Linked DNA regions of Homo sapiens: region 1 is linked to region 2. Evidence: fine-mapped QTL for protein levels in blood plasma. A gene starts in region 2. The other region holds a variant in brackets. All regions are shown on one strand. Distances are between the middles of the regions.

What was found. A credible set is the group of variants that fine-mapping cannot tell apart. PIP is the chance, under the fine-mapping model, that this variant and not a neighbour inherited with it causes the effect. Sun 2018 read protein levels with aptamers (SomaScan).
Region 1: its variant is the best candidate, but not a certain one, in a credible set for the plasma level of the SIGLEC7 protein (Sun 2018, PIP 0.58).

What each region holds. Positions count from the first base shown.
Region 1 is chr19:51,125,699-51,135,762 of GRCh38, reverse strand. It overlaps SIGLEC9 (sialic acid binding Ig like lectin 9), which reads right to left. Exons shown (of 7, transcript NM_014441.3): 2 at 9,888-10,064; 3 at 9,635-9,682; 4 at 8,467-8,733; 5 at 7,724-7,814; 6 at 7,253-7,349; 7 at 5,453-5,872. The coding sequence ends at 5,684. Among named protein-coding and RNA genes, the nearest start is that of SIGLEC9, 5.8 kb to the right of the region's middle. RefSeq lists an enhancer at 6,787-6,836. The variant C/T (reference allele first, on the strand shown) is at 4,146.
Region 2 is chr19:51,136,915-51,146,978 of GRCh38, reverse strand. It overlaps SIGLEC7 (sialic acid binding Ig like lectin 7), which reads right to left and starts at 4,678. Exons shown (of 7, transcript NM_014385.4): 1 at 4,177-4,678; 2 at 2,295-2,573; 3 at 2,020-2,067; 4 at 858-1,124; 5 at 129-225. The coding sequence starts at 4,609. It overlaps LOC124904749 (a long non-coding RNA gene), which reads left to right and starts at 6,469. Exons shown (of 3, transcript XR_007067310.1): 1 at 6,469-6,555; 2 at 8,153-8,194; 3 at 10,062-10,064.

The DNA.
Region 1 (10,064 bases), 11 kb after region 2:
ACAAAACCCTCCAACAAATATGGGATTATATAAAGAGACCAAACCTACGGCCCACTGGAATCCTGGAAAAAGAGAGACGCAGCAACTTATAAAACATATTTGAGGATATCATCCACAAAAATTTCCCCAACCTTGCTAGAGAGGTTGACATATAAATTCAGGAAATTCAGAGAACCCCAGGAAGATACTGTACAAGATTACCATCCCCCAGACACAGAGTCATTAGATTTTCTAAGGTTCACATGAAAGAAAAAATATTCAATGCAGCTAAAAGGAAGAGGCAGGTCATGTACAAAGGGAACCCCATCAGGCTAACAGAAGAGCTTTTAGCAGAAATCATATAAGCCAAAGACATTCGGGGCCTATATTCAGCATTCTTAAAGAAAACAAATTTCAGCCAAGATTTTCATACCCTGCCAAACTAAGCTTCATAAACGAAGGATAAATAAAATCCCTTTCAGACAAACAAAAACTGAAAAAAATTCATTACCACCGGACCTGACTTATAAGAGGTCCTTAAGTGAGTGCCAAACACAGAAGTGAAAGAATGTTACATGACACCACAGAAAGTGGTGTTAAGTGGTTAAGTGTATAACCCACTGACATTATGAAGCAACTATACAATCACGTCTACATAACAACCAGCTAACAACATAATGACAGGATCAAATTCTCACATCTCAATATTGACATATCAATAATGCTTTCGCTGGCTGTCCCTTTTGCATAGAGTCCAGCATGAGACGCAGAGGAGACTGGGATGCTTAATGTAGCCAGATGGGGCTGATGTAGCTCCTGAGTTAAAAATACATCTTTCTTTGGGACAGAAGGAACCACGTAATTTACTCTAGTCCAGTTTGGTCCTAGCATCCAGGAAAGTAAAGATGCAATGTACCAGAATACCCATATCAAAAAGTTAGAAAGATCCCAAATTAGCAACTTAACATTACACCTAGAGGAATTAGAAAAACAAGAGCAAGTCAACCCCAAAGCTAGCAGAATAAAACAAATAACCAAAATCAGAGCTGAAATGAATAAAATTGAGATACGAAAATTCCTACAAAAGATCAGTATACCCCAAAGTTGGTTCTTTGAAAGAACAAATAAGATTGATAGATCACTAGCTAGTCTAATAAAAAAGAGGGAACCAAAAGCTTTCATCATTTAAGAGTTTTTAATTTCTCTTTCATGAAAGGTAAATTTACATACAGTAAAATACATAGATTTTATTTGCGTGATTCAATGTGTTTTGATTCATAACCACATAATTACTATCCCAGTTAAGACATAGACTATTCCTAGGACTGGCTGGGCGCAGTGGCTCACGCCTGTAATCCCAGCACTTTGGGATGCAGAGGTGGTTGGATCACAGGGTCAAGAGATCAAGACCATCCTGGCCAACATGGTGGTCTTGGCCAACATGGTGGTCATCTCTATTAAAAATACAAAAATTAGCTGGGCATGGTGGCCCGTGCCTGTAATCCCAGCTACTCAGGAGGCTGAGGCAGGAGAATCGCTTGAACCCTGGAGGCGGAGGTTGCAGTGAGCCACTGCACTCCAGCCCGGCAACAGAGCTAGACTCCTTCTCAAAAAAAAAAAAAAAAAAAAAAAAAAAGAAAAGAAAGAAATAAAATTCCCAGGACCCCAGAAAGTTCCCCTGTGTGCCATTCACGTTAATCCCCAAATCCCACTCCCAACCTGAGGCAGTCACTGTTATGAATTTCTGTCTTTGTAGATTAGTTTGGCCTGTTCTTGAACTTCATATAAGTGAAACTACAGAGCATGTATTCTTTTGCATCTGGCTTCTTTGACTCAAGATGTTTTCAAAATTTATTCAAGCTATTGCATGTATTATATATTGTTATTATATATTGATGAGTATTATGCCGTTACATGGAAACATGTAATCAATTTTAAATATTAATTACTTAGATTTTTATATTATTTTCTCACTAAATGTAGGACATTTCAAGTGCTCAGTAGCCACATGTGGCTAGTGGTTACCATATCAAACAGCACAGTTGTACAAACATTATAGTCTCCGCTTTTACTTTTAGGTTTATGATTCGCTTCAGGCTAATTTTTTGCGTGTGATGTGAGAAACAGCTCAACACTCGTTTTTACCAACCCTAATTTCACTTGTTCCGCTAACATTTATTTTTTATTTATTTATTTATTTTCAAGATGGGGTCTCACTCTGTCGCCAGGCTGGAGTACAGTGGCACAATCTTGGCTCACTGCAACCTCTGCCTCCTGGGTTCAAGCAATTCTGCTTCAGCCTCCCTAGTACCTGGGATTACAGTTGCCTGCCACCACACCCAGCTAATTTTTTTTTTTTTTTTTTGTATTTTTGGTAGAGATGGTGTTTCACCATGTTATCCAGGCTGGTCTTGAACTCCTGACCTCAAGTGATCCACCCACCTCAGCCTCCCAAAGTGCTGGGATTACAGGTGTGAGCCACCGCGCCCGACCACCTACCAACATTTATTAAAAGTCTTTCCTGTCCCAATTGAATAGACTTGATGCTATTCAGTTGACTGTATATGTGTGGGTCCATTTGTAGACTGTACTCTAGTCCACACCACACTCTCTGTATTACTCTAGTGTTAAAGTCTGCCTTCTCTAAATGTGTTTCTTATCACAATGATTTGGTTATTCTAGGTTTTTATGTGTTTATATAAATTTCAGAACCAACTTATCAATTTATAACTATATATGTATATATATAAACTTATATTTACAATATACATACATATACACTCATCTATACTTATGTACATACATATACACATATACATATATTTTATATATATATAGGAATTTTGACAGGGATTACCTAAATCAATATGCAGACAACTGACATTTTAACCATTTTTGCCTTCTAATCCATGAACGTGATATATTTCTTCCTTCATTTGGGCCTTCCTTAAGTCTCTCAAAAATGTTCTATATTCATCAGTACAGAAGCATTCCGTGTTATCTTAGTTCATTTGTGTTGCTATAGAGTAATATCTGAGGCTGGGTAATTTATAAAGAAAAGAGGTTTATACAGCTTGTAGCTGCAGTGAACGCCAAGAATGAAGCACTCAGACAATTCCAGCTGAGCGGGATGCGGCGGCAGCAGCATCTCTGAAAGAGTGCCGCCCCAGAATCCGTCCGCCAAGTGTTTCTCGAAAGGGTTTGTTAAACCAAAATGTCCACCAGATGGCCTTTTGCGGTCGGGTCATGAGACACATATGGCCTGGTAAAAACACTCAGACTACAGTCTCAGGAGGCTGCTTTCCGCGCTCCTTATCACACATTCCGTTCCTTGCCCTGTTTTCAGGGTCAAGGAGTTTCAATCTCATGCACAAACAACACGCACACGGTGCCTCAGTATTTTTCCATGCCTCGACCTCAAATGCCTTGTACATAAGCTTGAATATGTTGCCGTGCACCCCCCACAGTTTATTTGGCTCACAGTTCTGCACCACATAGAAAATGCTTGGCACCAGCCTTTGCTTCTGGTGAGGGTCTCAGGAAGCTTCCACTCATGGTGGAAGGCAAAAGGAAGTCTGCATGTGCAGACAATACGGCAAGAGAGGAAGCACGGGCTGGGGAGGGGAGGTGCCAATGTCTTTTTAACACCCAGCTCTTGGAGAAACTCTCACAGGAAGTAACAGAGTGAGAACTCTCTCATTACCTTGAAGACAGCACCAAGCCATTCATGAGGGATCCAATCCCGGGACCTGAACACCTCCCATTTGGCCCCACCGCCAACACTGGGCATCAAATATCAACAGGAGGCTTGGCAGGGCCAAACAAACCATATCCAAACCATAGCATAGGATTTTTTTTTTTTTTTTTTGACACAGACTCTTGCTCTGTCGCCCAGGCTAGAGTGCAATGGCACAATCTCAGCTCACTGCAACCTCCGCCTCCCGGGTTCAAGCAATTCTCCTGCCTCAGCCTCCCAAGTAGCAAGGACTACAGGCATACGCCACCTCGCCTGGCTAATTTTTGTATTTTTAGTAGACATGGGGTTTCACCATGTTGGCCAGGCTGGTCTTGAACCCCTGACCTGAAGTGATTTGCCCTCCTCAGCCTCCCAAAGTGTTGGGATGACAGGCGTGAGCCACCACGCCCAGCTCGGATATGATTTTTTA[C/T]TTATTTATTTATTTATTTATTTATTTTTTTTGAGACGGAGTCTCGCTCTGTCTCCCAGGCTGGAGTGCAGTGGCACGATCTCAGCTCACTGCAAGCTCCACCACCCGGGTTCACGCCATTCTCCTGCCTCAGCCTCCCGAGTAGCTGGGACTACAGGCACCCGCCACCACGCCCGGCTAATTTTTGTATTTTTAGTAGAGACAGGGTTTCACCATGTTAGCCAGGATGGTCTCGATCTCCTGACCTCGTGATCTGCCCACCTCGGCCTCCCAAAGTGCTGGAATTACAGGCGTGAGACACTGTGCCCGGCCATGATTTTTAAAAAATTGTTCCTTGGTACTTTACGGTTTTTTGATGCTGCCGTAAATGGGCAAGAGTCTAGATTTAGGGAAGTTTTAGTGCTTCCTCCAGTCCTTTGATTTCTTCCTATCAGGGCTACTGCATAAAGTGATTGTTGTGAGATGTCCCTTTCCTCGTTCGGGTGCTGCATGTAGGTAAATTTTTTTGGATCATGTTGTTTAATTTGCCAGATGATCCTGTGCCCCTTTGGAAACGTTTCTCATTCCCTGGGTTTGGCTTTAGAGGAGGGAGATCATGAGCTGCTGCTTCACTCTCTCCCTCAGCTCAACCCAGAAGTCCAATCCTTGAACTCCATTTTCAAAGACAGAGACAGAAGAAGGCCCAGGAGGAGGGCGTTCTAGGAGGAGGGTCCCCAGTGTGCAAGGACTGAGGTATGAACCAACAGGGCATGTTGCAAATGATTTGGAAAAGACCAGAGGGACCAGTGGGTTAAGTGGTGAAGATGGAGGAGTGGACTGAAGTGGGAGAGTGATGTCACGAAGAGGATGTGATGGGAGGTTCAGGATCCAGGAGCCATGGATGGGCTGTGAGCAGTGCGGAGAGAGCTCAGTGTGTCCTAAAGATTCCCACTGGACTGTGCACAATACGTAGACTGCAGAGAGTAAGGCGGCCTAGCAGTCACAGGGTGGGCAGATGAGGCTGAAGAGGTGGGCAGGATCCAGATGCTACCTAGACCTGATTTGCAGGCTGAGGTTATTTCCTGGAAAGTTGCAGAATCGCTATTTTGCAGGCAAGTGACACAGACATATAAGTACTAGTTGCCACCAGAATCAGGAGAGGTTCCCAGCAGGACCTTTGTGTTCAAAGCACAGCGATCCATCAGTGCTCGGCATACACCTGTGCCAGGAGCTCTAACGGGATGTGACTCCTGGAATGGTGACCACAACCTTGCAAGTAGGGCTTCTCATTCCTGTTTTACAGAGCAGGAAACCAAGGTACAGAGAGGTAGGAATTTGTCTGTCTTTTAGTTAAAAAAATAAAAGGGAGGGCACAGTGTGGATTCAGGTTTGAGATACTTTGACTCTAAAGCCTGTGTGCTTTTCACTCTGCACATAATTCATAGTGTTATCATAGCTCATCACGTTGAGGGCTGTTAATTCTACAAGAATCAGCCTCTGACTTCTCCCTTGCCTGGAGGGGCTGTGATCCCTCAATCAGGGTGAGTCTCTGCAGTTTCTCATCTGTGGATCTTGATCTCCGAGTACTCGGTGTCAGTGGCCTCCTGTCCCCGCGAGTCCCAAGGCTTCACCATCTGGAAGCTGAGGGATGCATACTGGAGCTCTCCTTCCCCCACTGAGGAGCGGGCAGAAGCTGGGGGAGGCTGGTCTGGGGGACTGTCTTCTGCCCAAGGTTCAGTCAGGGGCCCCTGAGACATGGGAGAGAGAAGTGAGTCAGAGCAGACAGTGAGGATGGGGCGCGGTGGCTCACATCTGTAATCCCAGCTCTTCAGGAGGCTGAGGTAGGCGGATCACCTGAGGTCAGGAGTTTGAGACCAGCCTGGCCAACATGGTGAAACCCTGTCTCTACTAAAAATACAAAATTAGCCAGGTGTGGTGGTGTGCACCTTTAATCCCAGCTACTCAGGAGGCTGAGGCAGGAGAATCGCTTGAACCTAGGAGGCAGAGGTTGCAGTAAGCCAAGATTGTGCCACTGCACTACATCCTGGGTGACAGAGCGAGACTCCATCTCAAAAAACAAAAACAAACAAACGAAAAAATGCACTTGAGGCAACAGCCTCACTCACTTCACCCTTGTTCTTGCCCTAGTGGAGAGGTAGGTGCTTAAAAGGTCAGAATGTGGCCGGTCACAGTGGCTCACGCCTGTAATCCCAGCACTTCGGGAAGCCAAGGTGGGCAGATCACAAGGTCAGGAGACTGAGACCATCCTGGCTAACACAGTGAAACCCCGTCTCTACTAAAAATACAAAAAAATTAGCTGGGCGTGGTGGCAGGCGCCTGTAGTCCCAGCTACTCCGGAGGCTGAGGCAGGAGAATGGCTTGAACCCGGAAGGTGGAAGTTGCAGTGAGCAGAGATCGCACCACTGCACTCCAGCCTGGGCGACAGAGCAAGACTCTGTCTCAAAAACAACAACAACAAAAAAAAAAAAAAACAAAAAAAGTCAGAATGTGCACTGCTGCAGGCTATAGAGTTTGGGATTTTTACTCTAGATCAGGGGTTGTCAAACTACAGTATCTGAGTCATATCCAGCCCACTCTTTATGTTTGTGAATAGTTTTATTGGCACACAGCCATATTCATTTGTTTACACAGGGTATATGGCTTCTTTCTTGCTACAACAGCAGATTTGAGGAGCTGCAATGAGACTGTGTGGCCCATGAAGCCGAAAATAGTTTCTATCTGTCCCTGACAGATAGTATTTGCTGGCTTCTGCTCTAAACGGTATTGAGGGGTGGGGGAACAGCTGTTCAAATGCAGAGGAACTGGACGATGATGTCTTCTGGACAGTCCCCCCAGGCAGGAAAGGAGAGGAGACAGGCAGACAGGTGAGGGAACAAAAGACAGAGATCCTCAGGCCTCAGCAATGAAGGGTCAGGATAGGGAGCAGAGACAATAAAAGCTGTTCTTAGGGGAGGAAACCAACCAAACATTGTGATTTGGGGCTACAGAGAAGAAAGGAAGAACAGAGAGGAGGTAACTTTGGCTACGCCCAGCTGATTAGTCCTGGGGGTCATCCTGTGGGAGGTGTCCAGGCTACATGCTGGCTGTGGAGAGTCCACATCACTCACCTGAGAGGCTGAACCCCTGACAGCGTTTGCATCCTCTATGCCCGTATCTCCCACGCCCGCTGCTGGCCTTGCCGATTTCTTCCTGCAGGACCTCACTCTGAGTGAAGAGACCAGAGAGCCTTTCAGTGTGGTCAGATTGGGGTGCGGTGGGCAGACCAGGTACCCCCATGTGTTTCCTATTAAGGGACTGCAGGGGTGACTGAGGTGGGAAAGCAGTGGTCCAGTCTTAGAGACCCCAAGGTTGAGAACAGAGGCTCTCTTCTCCTGGACAGTGGGTACCAAGGTTTGCCACAGACTCAAAGCTCCTCAAACACAGGCCCACATGGAATTCTCACCATGCACCTGTGACCTCCTTCTTGCCCCAAGCTCTTGACCCATCCAGGTCCCTCCAGCTCTGGCTTCAGGGATCCAGCTTCCAGCCTGTCCTCCCCCAGGGCTCTCCCTCCCTCCCTCTCTAGGGTCCATGCTTACACAACGAAGATGACGCAGAAGGACAGGAAGACCAGGGCTGTGGCTCCAGCTCCCCCGACCACCCCCTGAGTCACTCCTGATGTGGCTTTGCCTGTTGACAGATGGGAGTTATTTTTGTGATATATCATAGAGAATTGGGTCTCTTCTCCTCCCACTTCCTGTAGGGTCCTAGACTTCTATTTCCACTTCCCCTTTCCAGACACAAAGAACAGGAATGAGAGAGAGCAGGACATGGAGAGACTCTTCCTGAGGCCAGTGAGGCGTGCAAGTGCCAGCCATTCCTTTTGGGGTTTTTTTTCACAATTTTAATATTTTATCCATTAATGAATTTGTTTTGCATTCAATTTTTACTTTTTTTAAAAGATTATTGCATTGCAATATGATTTCATTTGATTGCTGACTTGCTGGGCTTTTTCTTTTTTTTAATTTGATGCTCAAAGCAAGTATCTCAGTTGTGTGACTCCAGTTCAGCCCTGCAAAGAAAGGCGCTTGTCTCCCTAAACACACCTGTCCGGCCCCATCCTGTCCCCTCTGAGATCCACTCCTGCCCTCTCCCCACCCCACAACCCTTCCCTGGCAGGAAGAGGACAGTGGTGCTGTGGGTCCCAGGGAAGTTCCAGACCTCACAGCTGAGCACAGACCAGAGCGGAGCTCCTCTCTGAAGGTCCACGCTCAGCAGTTACTAAGGGTGGAGGAGGTGTGTTCTCCTCTCCAGCCCCTCCCCAGCATACTGGTGCACTCACTCTGCAGGGAGACGTTCAGGTAGACCTGCTGAGAGCCGAGAGGGTTCTGAGCTCTGCAGGTGAATTCAGCTGCATCCCTCAGGTGCACCCAAGGCAGCTCCAGCACCCCCGGGTTTGAGGGCTGTGAGGGGCACAGGGTCAGGCCTCTCCAGCTCAGGCTCAGCCTGGCAGGGGGATTGCTGTCAACTGCATCAACTGCACAGACCAGGCGCAGAGACTGGCCCTCTGGGAGTGACAGAGATGAGCCATTTCCCAAGACTGTGGATACTGTAGAAAAAGAGACAGAGGGTCAGAGAGATACATAGATCTGGAGAAAAAGGAAGGATACAGAAAGAGACTGATGACAGCAACTGACACACAGACATAGACTGAAGTTCTGGAAACACACACTTTCACCACTCACTGCTGGGAATGTAAACTTCTCCCCGCTTCATCGAGAACAGTTTGGGCTTATCTTTCAAAATAAGAAAGAACATATAATGTAGCTACATTTTGCTTTTAGGAACTTAACCCACAGGCTTAGATATTCCTGTGGAAGTAGATACAAGATTGTTCTATCCTGCCGTAGGATGAAATTAGTGCCGTGATCTTCCATTAGGAGATGCCACAAAATCAGAGTCCATCCATGCAGTGGACTCACACACAGCCCTAGAGGAGGGTGCGGACAGTCTCACTACGGACGTCAAACCACCTCTGAGATCCTCCAGGTGTACAAACCGAGACTCAGGGCAGCCTGGATGGACAGTGGTTGGTTCTGGGGAGGGGGGCAGGCATCGGAGGAGAGCCTTTGCTCTGCAATTTGAATTTTTGCCCATGGACATTTATCACCTGTCCAGAAGTACTTAGATCAGAACTATCAGAAATAAACAGATAAGGGTGGAGATGTATTCAGGAGATACATGAGAAGGAGCCTCAAAGCCTGGTCCTGCTGTGTGAATGCCACCCTCTTCTTGTTTGAGGCTGAGGGGGGGGTGTGTGGGGGAGTCCAAGGGAGGTGATGGGAGGATGGGAACAAGTGGCCTTGGGGCCTAAGGATACAGAGGGGCCCTGAGTTCACCCACAAGGACATCCCTGTTTGCCAAAGTGAGTCCAGGTTGAGGAATAAGCCAGCCCCATCCTGACCTGAAGGCCCTGCTCCTCCAGCCCCAGGGAGGGAGCTCCATCCTACCTGTGCCGTCTCCTTGGAAGACAGTCATGGTCAAGTTCTGAGGCGGGTCTGGGACAGAAAGACATGGAGACCCGCATCACTGTGAGGGCTGGGGACACTGGCCCTGTCTGTCCCCAGGAGCCGCATAAACAGGGAAGGCAGAGCCAGTGTCCTCCTGACCCCACCACCAGCCCAGATTCCGGGACCCAGCACCCAGTGTCCAGGCTTGACGCTCACCCCATCAGGGACCCAGGCGTCCCGGCCCAGCACTCACAGGACACGTTGAGATGGACGGTCTTGTTCGTGGTCACGCTGGCCCCAGGGAAGGTCACCTGACAGGTGAGGCTGGTGCCATGGTCCTGGGGCTGTGGGATGAGGGTGAGCACCGAGGAGCGGGTGGTGGAGGGGTCCAGGGGGGACACGGAGGTCCCTATCCAGGAGATCATAGGGG
Region 2 (10,064 bases):
CACCCGTGAGCTCATTCTTGCCCCAAGCTCTTGACCCATGCAGTCCCTTCCAGCTCTGGCTTCAGGGATCCTGCTCCCAGTCCGCCCTCCCCCAGGACTCTCCCTCCCTCCCTAGGGTCAGTGCTCACACAATGAAGATGACACAGAAGGAGAGGAAGACCAGGGCTGTGGCTCCAGCTCCCCCGACCGCCCCCAGCAACACTCCTGATACAGGCCTCATTTTGCCTGAGGATGGATTGGAATTGTTTTGGTGATCCAACTCCAAGAACTGGGTCTCTTCTCCTCCCACTTCCTATAAGGCCCCCAACTTGGGTACCCTAATCCCCCTTCCCAGAAACAAAGGGCAAGAATGGGAGGGAGGAGGAAGGGACAACTCCTGAGGTCACTGAGGCATGAGAGTGGTAAGCACAGCCTGCCTGTATTTGAAATTTTGATTTGTATTCACTGTCAAATTATTTTGCAATAATTTTTAGTTTTTAATAAAGATAATCACATCCAATATTATTTCACTTGCTTGCTGAGTTGTTTTATTTTTTGTTTTTTAGTCGTGTGCCCAGAAGTGAGTGCCTTGCTTGTGTCACCCTAGTCCAGGCACTGGAAAGCAAGGCACGTGTCTCCCCAAACACACCTGTCCAGGCCCCAGCTCCTCCCCTCCAAGACCCACTCCTCCCCTCTTCCTGCCTTACACACCTTTCCTGGCAGGAAGAGGACAGCAGTGCCCTGGGTTGCAGGGAAGTTCCAGGCCTCACAGCTGAGCACAGACCAGAGCTGAGCTCCCCCTTGAAGCTCAGGGGCAGTGGGTGGCCCATGAGGGTGGGGCAGGTGTGTTCTCCTCCTCCAGCCCCTCCCTTACCCACCTGTGTACTCCTGTTGCAGGGAGAGGTTCAGGGAAACGTGCTGGGAACCCAGAGAGTTCTGAGCTCGACAGGTGAATTCCCCTTCATCCCCCAGGTGCACTTGCAGCTCCAGTACCAGAGGGTTTGAGGGCTGTGAGGGGTACAGGGTCAGACTCCTCCAGGTCCAGCTCAGCCTGGCAGGGGGATTGCTGTCAACAGCACAGACCAAGCGCAGAGACTGGCCCTCTAGGACTGAAAGAGATGAGCTGTTCCCCAGAGCTGTGGATGCTGTAGAGAAAAAGTTGGAGGTTCAAAGAGACAAAGTGATTGAAACAGGGAGGAAGGATACAGAATGAGACTGGGGAATGGAACAGAGAGTGATGTAGGCTGGTGCAGGGACATACTTATGTTCACCGCTCACTGTTGGGAATGTAAACTTGCCCACCTTTATTTGAGGACAACTTCACCATATCTTTCAAAATCAGAAAGAACATATGACACTGGTAAAATGTGCTTTTAGGAATTTATCCTATACACTTAGATATTCCTTGTGGGAGTAGATACAACATTATTCATTGCAGTGTTCGTGCCGTAGGATAAAATTAGTGCCATGATCTTCCATTAGGAGATGCCACAAAATCAGAGACTATTCAGACAGTGGAATCACACACATCCCTAGAAGAGGGTGCAAACAGTCTCACTGCTGACATCAAACCACCTCTGAGATCTTCCAGGTGCACAAACCAAGGCTCAGGACAGCCTGGACAGACCCTGGTTGATTCTGGGGACACATTTTACTGTGAATTTAAAATTTTTGCCCACGTGATTATAGCATGTATCCAAAAGAACGTAGCTCAAAACTATTGGGTAAAATAAAAAGACGAGTTAGGTGGCATATTCAGGAGATGGAAGATAAGAGGCCCAAAGGCTGCTCCTGCTATATGTATTTCCCCCTGTCCTGGCTGCAGGGCTGAGGAGGGTGTGTGTGCAAGAGTCTGAGGGGAGTGGGGGGAAGAGGACAGGTGCTCAGGTGGCCACAGAGGCTAAGGATGGGGAGGAGGCCTGGGTTCAACTACAAGGGAGTCTCATATCACCAGGGTGAGTCCAGGATGAGGAGGGACCTGGCCCTGCCCTGAGCTGAAGGCCCTGCTCCCCCAGCCCCAGGGAGGGGGCTCCATCCTACCTGTGCCTTCTCCTTGGAAGACAGTCACAGTCAAGTTCTGAGGAGGGTCTGGGACAGAAAGACATGGAGACCTGCATCACTGTGAGGGCTGGGGACACTGGCCCTGTCTCCCCAGGAGCTGCATAAATGGGGAAGGCGGAGCCAGCGTCCTCCTGATCCCACAACCAGCCCAGATTCTGGGACCCAGCACCCAGTGTCGAGCCCTGACCCCATCCTCTGCCCTCAGGGACGTCCCCCCCTCATCAGGGACCAGGGCGTCCTGGCTCAGCACTCACAGGACACATTGAGTTGGATGGTCCTGTTCGTGGTCACGCCGGCCCCAGGCAAGGTCACCTGACAGGTGAGGCTGGTGCCGTGGTGCTGGGGCTGTGGGATGAGGGTGAGCACTGAGGAGCGGGTGGTGGAGGGGTGCAGGGGGGACACAGAGGTCCCCATCCAGGAGATCATAGGGGGCGTCCCCTGCTCACAGGCCCAGGGCACAGAGCAGGTCAGATTCTGGAAGCAGCCAGACTCCAGGGTACCGGGGATAAGGATGTTGGGCCTGTGGGTCAAGGCTGGTGAAGAGAGGGGGACTCAGGATCAGGACAGAGGATCCATGGTACAGCCCTGGGGGAAGCTCAGGCTCTGGTTCAGCTTCTGCCCTGAGCCCAACTCGCTTCACCCTCAGCCCTCTCCCAGGGCAGGGGCCCCATCCCAGGCTTTCGCTGCCACCCCCATGACCTTTCCCTGTGGTGTCTCCTGGAGCCTGTGCCTTATCTGTCACATTCACAGAGAGCTGCTTCGTTTTGTAATTCCATCTTATCTGTCCTCTCTCCACCTGGAAGTAGTAGTTCCTCAAATCCCCCTTCCTGGCATCTCTGATGCTCAGGGAGCAGTTGTTGGTCTTCAGGTCCCCAAGGAGGTGGAATCGGCCCCGTGTCTCCTGCACTTTTCCATTTGGGATGTTTGTGGCCACTGGATTATTCCATTGTATATTGATCCCTTTCTTAAACCAGCATCCATGGACAGGGCTAGAGTCAGTTCAGTTGTAATAGGGTTAAAGGACACTGCAGGGCACAGAGACGCACTAGCCCTCCTGCACCATCACCAACTCCAGCACCTCCAGCCTGTATCTTGACAGTGGGGCCTGGGACGCTGTGGGGAAATGAGGCTCAGCCCAGCCCCGACTGTCCCTCTCTTCATTTGCCCACAAGAGAGGCAGCAGCATCTCTGAGACAGAGGGTTCCTGGGCTCCTTGTGTGAGCAGAGAAGTGGGAGGGAGAGGAGGGGCAGGGCTGTGGGACCCACAGGGGGCTGGAGAGGGGCTGGAGAGGAGCTGGAGACCTCAACCCAGCACGAAAGAGAAACTACAAACCCACATGCTATAGGAACTGGTTCCCTCTGCACAGAGTGAAGGAAACCCTGAAGCTCAGAGACCCTAGAGACCCACCCAGGGAGGAGAAGAGACCGTGTCCCACCTCCTACCTCCGGGCTTCCCTGGAGCACCAGGGCCTGCACCAGACACGTAGGTCCTGCCCTCCCGGCCTCTGGACCATCGTGGAGGTCCCTCCTGTCTTTTGAGCATCTAAATGTGGATCTCCGAGGACCTCAGGGCATGAGAGATGGAGGGGCCGTGTGCTGAGTCTCCCTGTCCAGGCTCAGGTGCCTCTGCTGCCCTTGGTTTGCGCCAGGAAGTGCTTCCTCCCTGGCCTGGCCTGAGAGAGTCACGGGGTTGTGTAGACCTAAGGCTCTCAACTGGGGAGGACTTAACCCCCCAGGACGTTTAACAATGTGTGGAGATAATTGTTATTGTCTCACTGCATGGGTGGAGTGGGTGCTTCTGGCATCTGGTGGGGAGAGGCCTGGGATGGTGCTAAACCCCGGCCATGCCTAGGACAGGCCCCAAAACAAGGAGTCATAAGGCCCCACATGCCACAATGCCAGCGTCAGAGGCAGGATGAGGATGTCAGGCCTGTGGGTCAGGGCTGGTGAGGGGAGGGGCCTGCAGGATCAGGAGGGGCATCCAAGGTGCGGTCCTGGGGAAGCTCAGGCTCTGGTCCAGCTCCTCTCCTGAGTCCATCACCCCCGGCCCCCTCCCAGGACATGTGTCCCGTCTCAGCCGTGCCCTAAAGCCCTCATCACATTTGCCTTTGGCCTCTCTTGGAGCCCGTGCCTTACCTGTCACGTTCACAGAGAGCTGGTCATATTTATAATTCCATTTTATATTTCCTTTCTCCATACGAAAGAAGTATCTCCCCGCATCACTCATTCTGGCATCTCTGATGCTCAGGGTGCAATTTTTGGTCTGTGGGTCCCCAAGGAGGTGGAATCGGTCCCGAGTTTCCTCCTGCACTGCCCAAGCTGGGTTGTTTGTGGCCACTGGAGCCTTCCAGCTTATATCATTCCCTGCCCGGAACCAGTAGCCATGAACTGGGTCAGAGTCAGTCTGGCTGTCCACTGGGTAGGAGAAGGAGCAGCGCACATGGACACACATGCCCTCTTGCACGGTCACGGAACTCTGCATCGTCAGCGAGTAATCCTTCCGGTTACTCTTCTGTCCTTCCACCCTCTCCCTCCCCCAGAGCAGGGGCAGCAGCAGCAGCAGCAGCATATCTGGGGTTGGAGGTGCCAGGGCCGCGAGGGAACGTCTGTTCCTCAGGGTTCTTCTCTCAGGAACTGCGGGCTCAAGACTTAGAAGAGGCCCTACAGGAAGTCGGTGGTGAGGTCAAAACAGTGACCTCCTTAGAAGAAGAACTTCACACACAGACACTGTCAGGGCTGGGTCAGCCCTGGGAGATCCACCGTCCACCACCCGACATTCACTCCTGGGTCCCTGAGGCCAGAGCGGGAGACAGACTCACCCAGATTCCCACCCCATGCAGGGCCCACCCCACCTCCTGCCTCCCTCTCAATGCCTTTCCCTTTAGGTGATATTTTCTGCAGGGTGAAAATAACTCCCATCTGCCCAGACCCCTGAGTCACAGGCTGTGGATGTCTGCGTAGCTCAGAAGTGGGACTCGGGGCCATGAGAGACAGGGGTGCAGGTGGGGTGAACAGGCAGCCTCTCATCCCTCCCTCAGCAGCCACGAGGTGGGCACCCCCTTTCTGCACAATGAGGTCAACACAGCAGAGCCGGACACTGTCCCCAAGGAGTCACTGTGTGGTGGGGAGACACTGAGTCTCCTGACGTTTGAGCTCCCCATGACAGGAGCTTCAGTGGGGGGCACAGGCAGGGTGGGGTCACTCTCCCCTAGGTCGGGGGTTCAGTCTCAGGAGGACCGAGCAGACGGACATGGGGCTGTGAAGGTGAGGATTGCGCCTGTTGATACACGCCAAGGACACGGAGGGGAGCCCAGCCTGCAGGAGGCCGGGGAAGCTGAGGCTGTGATTGTTGTATTGTGGGGCTTGGTAGACAGGAAAGTCATAAGGGAAAGGATCAATATGAAAAGAGCAGACACTATTCCCATCCTCACAGCTCTCTGAGCACAAGGACATTTCCCTTCACCACTGCTATCTCATGAGGCCTGGTTAGTGCAGAGTGTGAGGGGTCTGCTGGCCCTGGGGCTTTGCTCCTGCAGGAACTGCTCCTAGGGGTTCAGGTGAACAGGAGACGTGGAGCAAAGACACCAGCCCCGGGGCGTCCACCCTCAGTGATGGGCGCGATTTTCTGAGAGAAGAAACACGCACCTGACTTCAACAGAAGATTATTTTAAACTGTGTGACTGGGCTGGGAGGAAGTGGGAAAAATCCTGCAAGCTGCAGCCCCCTTAGATCCAGGCCAGCTTTTCTTGAAACAGTTTTTTTTGAGCGGGGAGAAACACAAGACATGTACATAAAAGTGTCCCCTAAAAACCAACTCAGTGATTCACACAAAATAAGCACCCTTGAAGAACTAGAACACAAAAGAACTGTCAAGTCTGTCCCTTGAAATGAAGAAAGAGATTTTATTAATTCATTCACCCTTACATTCCCCTTTCCTATTGGCCATGCCCCCGCTCCCTCCTGAAGGAGCCCCTAGCCTCACTTTAATGATAATAGTCTTCCTGCTGTTCTATGTAGTTTTATCATCGGCACATGCTGCCTTGAAAATTCTAACTTCACGTAGGTTTTCCTGAAGATGTTGTATACATAGAAAATCCCAGTCTGTTTTCTTCCATACAACTGCATTGATCTGCTCAGCCCACACTGTCCCCTAATTGTCCATAACCTAGAGATCATTTGGCTGTAACGATTGAGAGAGGAAGATGCTGGGTTTGGGCGTCCGAAGCCACTCCCCGCCCTCACCTCCAATCCCTGCATTTGCAGCTAGTATCTCATCCTGCAGACCAATCTGCCTCCTGGGCGCCTCCTCCTTGCCCAGCCACTCTCTCCCCATAAGGATATTTGCAGTATCTCAGTGGGCAGAAGTGTTACCGGATGGTGCCATGCAGTTCCAGGCTCTTGGTGTCTTAAACAAAGAATTGGATGAGACACACACAGACAGCAAAGCAAGAAGCAGCAGTTTATTAAGCACAGTATCACACTCTTGGAGAGGGAGAGCGAACTGATCTCTATGAGGTGAGATCAGCATTACTTTGGGTCTTTTTATGTTTGTTTGTTTGTTTTTTTGTTTTTCTTCGCTTCCCAAGGCTGCCAAATCTCTATCCAGTGTCTGCCTTTTTTCGGGGGGAAGGGGTGGTGGTGAGGTGGGGACGAAGTCACCCAAGCTTGAGTGCAGTGGCACAATCTTGGCTCACTGCAACCTCAACCTTTTGGGTTGAAGCGATTCTTCTGCCTCTGCCTCCCTGGTAGCTGGGACTACAGGCGCCCGCCACCATGCCTGGCTAATTTTTGTATTTTTAGTAGAGATGGGGTTTCACCAGGTTGGCCAGGCTGGTCCTGAATTCCTGACCTCAAGTGATCCGCCCACCTTGGCCTCCCAAAGTGCTGGGATTACAGGCGTGAGCCACCGCGCCTGGCCAGTGCCTGCCTTTTTGATGGTTAAGTATGTTGCTTAGTTACTTTGACCCATCCCATAATTTTAAGTACATGGATAATATGCAGTCCATATGCATGAACTTTAATGAGCTGATTATCATACAGGGTCATGTTAAGGATACTTTTTCTCTCTAATGCACATGCATAGCTCTGAAGAACTGCCCCTTACTGGTTTGGTCCAGATCCTGCTGGCCACGGGTGTCCTTGCTCACTTCTCTATCTTACTTTTTGTTTTGGCTGCTCAACTTCTGCCTCTTGCTTCTTGCTCACCCGTCCCCTCACCTTGCTTCTGCTCTCTGCTTTTACTTATTCTGCCCTTTATCCAACTTTTAATTCTCTTTGCTATGCTCCTGCCCCATTGGTCTATGCTCCTCCTGCCTCAGAAGGGCTAGACCATGGCCCATCTCTTTCCCACAGTCCCCAGTTTGCAATTAAAATCAGAAAAAAAAATGGGAAGGAGAGACTTAAGGAAGCCACAGAATCTGTAGAAAGGAGGAACTTGTGAACCACATATGACCCAGGGGAGCTGACAAGCCCTCTACTCCCACTTCCACAGTTCGGAGAGGAAGACATCAAGGTCCACAGTGACAAGTGCTATGGTCTGAATATGTCACCTCAAAATTCATTTGTTGAAATTTGAATCCCCATGTGATAGTATTAGAAGGTATAATGATTTGGGAGGCGATTAGGCTATGAGGACTCTGGGATTAGTCTAATGGGATTAGTCCCCTCATCTGAGAGACCCAGGGGAATTTGCACAGCCCTTCCACCACATGAGAACATAAGGAAAAGGCACCATCTATGAGGAAGCAAACTGTCTCCAGACACCAAACCTGCTGGCACCTTGGTCTTGGACTTCTCAGCCTCCAGAACTGTGAGAAATGAATTTCTGTTGTTTATAAACTGGCCAGTTTATGGTATTTTGTTGTAGCAGCATGAATGGACAGAGATAGAAAGCGAATTGCCCAAATCACACAGGTCTCCTGGGCCCTGTCTCCTGCACCAATGTCTGCCCAGGAGCCACTTAATTAATCTTGTCTGCCCAGGACAGACTGGGCTGGGACAGGGGAAGCTGATGTTACTTGGAGAGTGAAAGAACTGTCAAGTCTCTCACATGAGATAAGGAAAGACATTTCATTCATTCATTCATTCATTCATTCATTCGTTCTGTATTCAGATTGTGAGCACCCGTGCTGTGCCTTGAGATTTCCAGCAAAGGGTAAGTGTTTGCCCAATCGCTCCCTCCCAGGAGGGGAAGTTGCAGCATCTCAGTGGTCAGAAGGGCTGAGCCATGGCTGACAGTGATGTCCTGCATCTGTCCCGCAGGGCTGGGTGTCCTCATCTGAGTTCTGTCTTGAGCAGGAGGGGCTCAGTCAGGCCTCTCAGCCCTGCTCCCCTGGGGGCCTCCACACCTGTAGAGCCAACACCGGCCTCAGATTAGCATCGGCCACTTCAATTCTAACTCAGGCGGGACAGGACAGCTCAGCCCCATCTGGAACTCGGGGGCCAATCCCTCGGCTTCCCTAGAAAAGAGCAGCCCTGCTCACCTGGAGTAGTAGCCCCAGGTGAGGCCACGGGTGAAGGAAAAACCAGTGCCCATGAGCGCCCCTTGATTAGGTGAGAACCAGGGGCTGGGAGCCCTCCTGATCTTCACTCGCACATCTGCACCCAGAGGGACTTCCTGGGAGTGGGGAGAAGAGGGTGAGGTTTTGTTCCTAGGTCTAGGCCCCTCTCACAGCCCAACACCTGACCAGGCTGCCTGCCCCAGCACCCGTCCAGCAGCTCCCTCTGCACAGAGAGGCTCAGGGAAATGTGCTGGGAGCCCAGTGGGTGCTGAGCCTCACAGGTGAGGTCGCCTTCACCTCCAGTCCCTTTCTGGGGCAGCTCCAGGATCCCAGTTGCTGAGAGCTGGGAGAGATTCAGTGTTCTTCCCTCCTGAGACCAGCTCAGTGAGGCGGGGGAGTTGCTGTCAGTCACACAGACCAGGCCCAGGGACTGACCCTCCAGGACAGGAAGCGAGGTGCCATTGCTCAGGGTCTTCAGGGTTGAGTGAGGAAAACAGTGAGAGCGGGGAGGGTGGAGCTGAGAGGCTGTCTCTCCCACAACCCCACAAAAACAGAAAGAGGAGACACCTGACTGTGTGACACATACTCACGAATGCAAATCCAGGAGTTCAAAAAGCTGAAAGACCCCGCAGGGAAAGAGGCTGAGCTGAGACTAGTGGGGGAGTTGGTCATATTAACAGGTGGCTAAGGGCACCTCAGGTGGAGGGGAAAAAGCACAGGCCATGAGACAGCCGGGCAGATGAAGGGCCCTGCAAATATGTGTGGGGTCTTCCAGGGGGAAATTGGAGGTGCTGGGACATGATCAGCTGAACAGCTTGGACTGAGGGTTCCAGGGAACCAGAGAGGGCCCTGAGCAGGGAAGAGGCAGTGTCAGCTCTGGATGCAGGAAAATTTTTCAGGGCTTGTGCTGCGAGGGCCACAGCATGGAGGCGAGAGGCTGCAGACCGGGATGTTGGGTGGGAAATGGAGCAATCGTCAAGACCGAAAAGGGCCTGGCCATGCAGATAGAGGGGAGGAGACAGGGAATGGAGGGAGGAGGAAGGGCATGATGGCAGACATTTTTGGGGAAGTGAAGTTTACAGGAACCCCTGACTCATGCATGGGGTGGTTGAAAACAGGAGGCAACTGGAATAAGTCCTGGGTCCTGACTGGGATAACTGAAGAGTCGGGGGTGGGGGATGGAGGCACCATGTCCAAGAAGAGGCTCAAGGGGCAGAAAGTGGGGGAGACATCAGGGCAGGGCTCACAGCTGAGCCACAAGGTGGACGTGCTCACTCAGGAAGCATGTGGAAGGGAAGGGGCAGCCCAGGGAATACGTGTCAGGCACTTTCCTGGGGCTGTCTCATCATAAGTTCCCTCGGCGTGGGAAGAACTGGCTTGGAAAAACAAGAGTAACCCCAACAGGAAGCCAGTGGGTAGGGGCAAAGTGGTAGTTCCTCACATAAGTGCAACTTCAGACTTATGGGTGCCAGAGGTGGGAGGTTTTTAGAGACGAGTGTTTTTCCCTTCCCTTCCATGTAGATC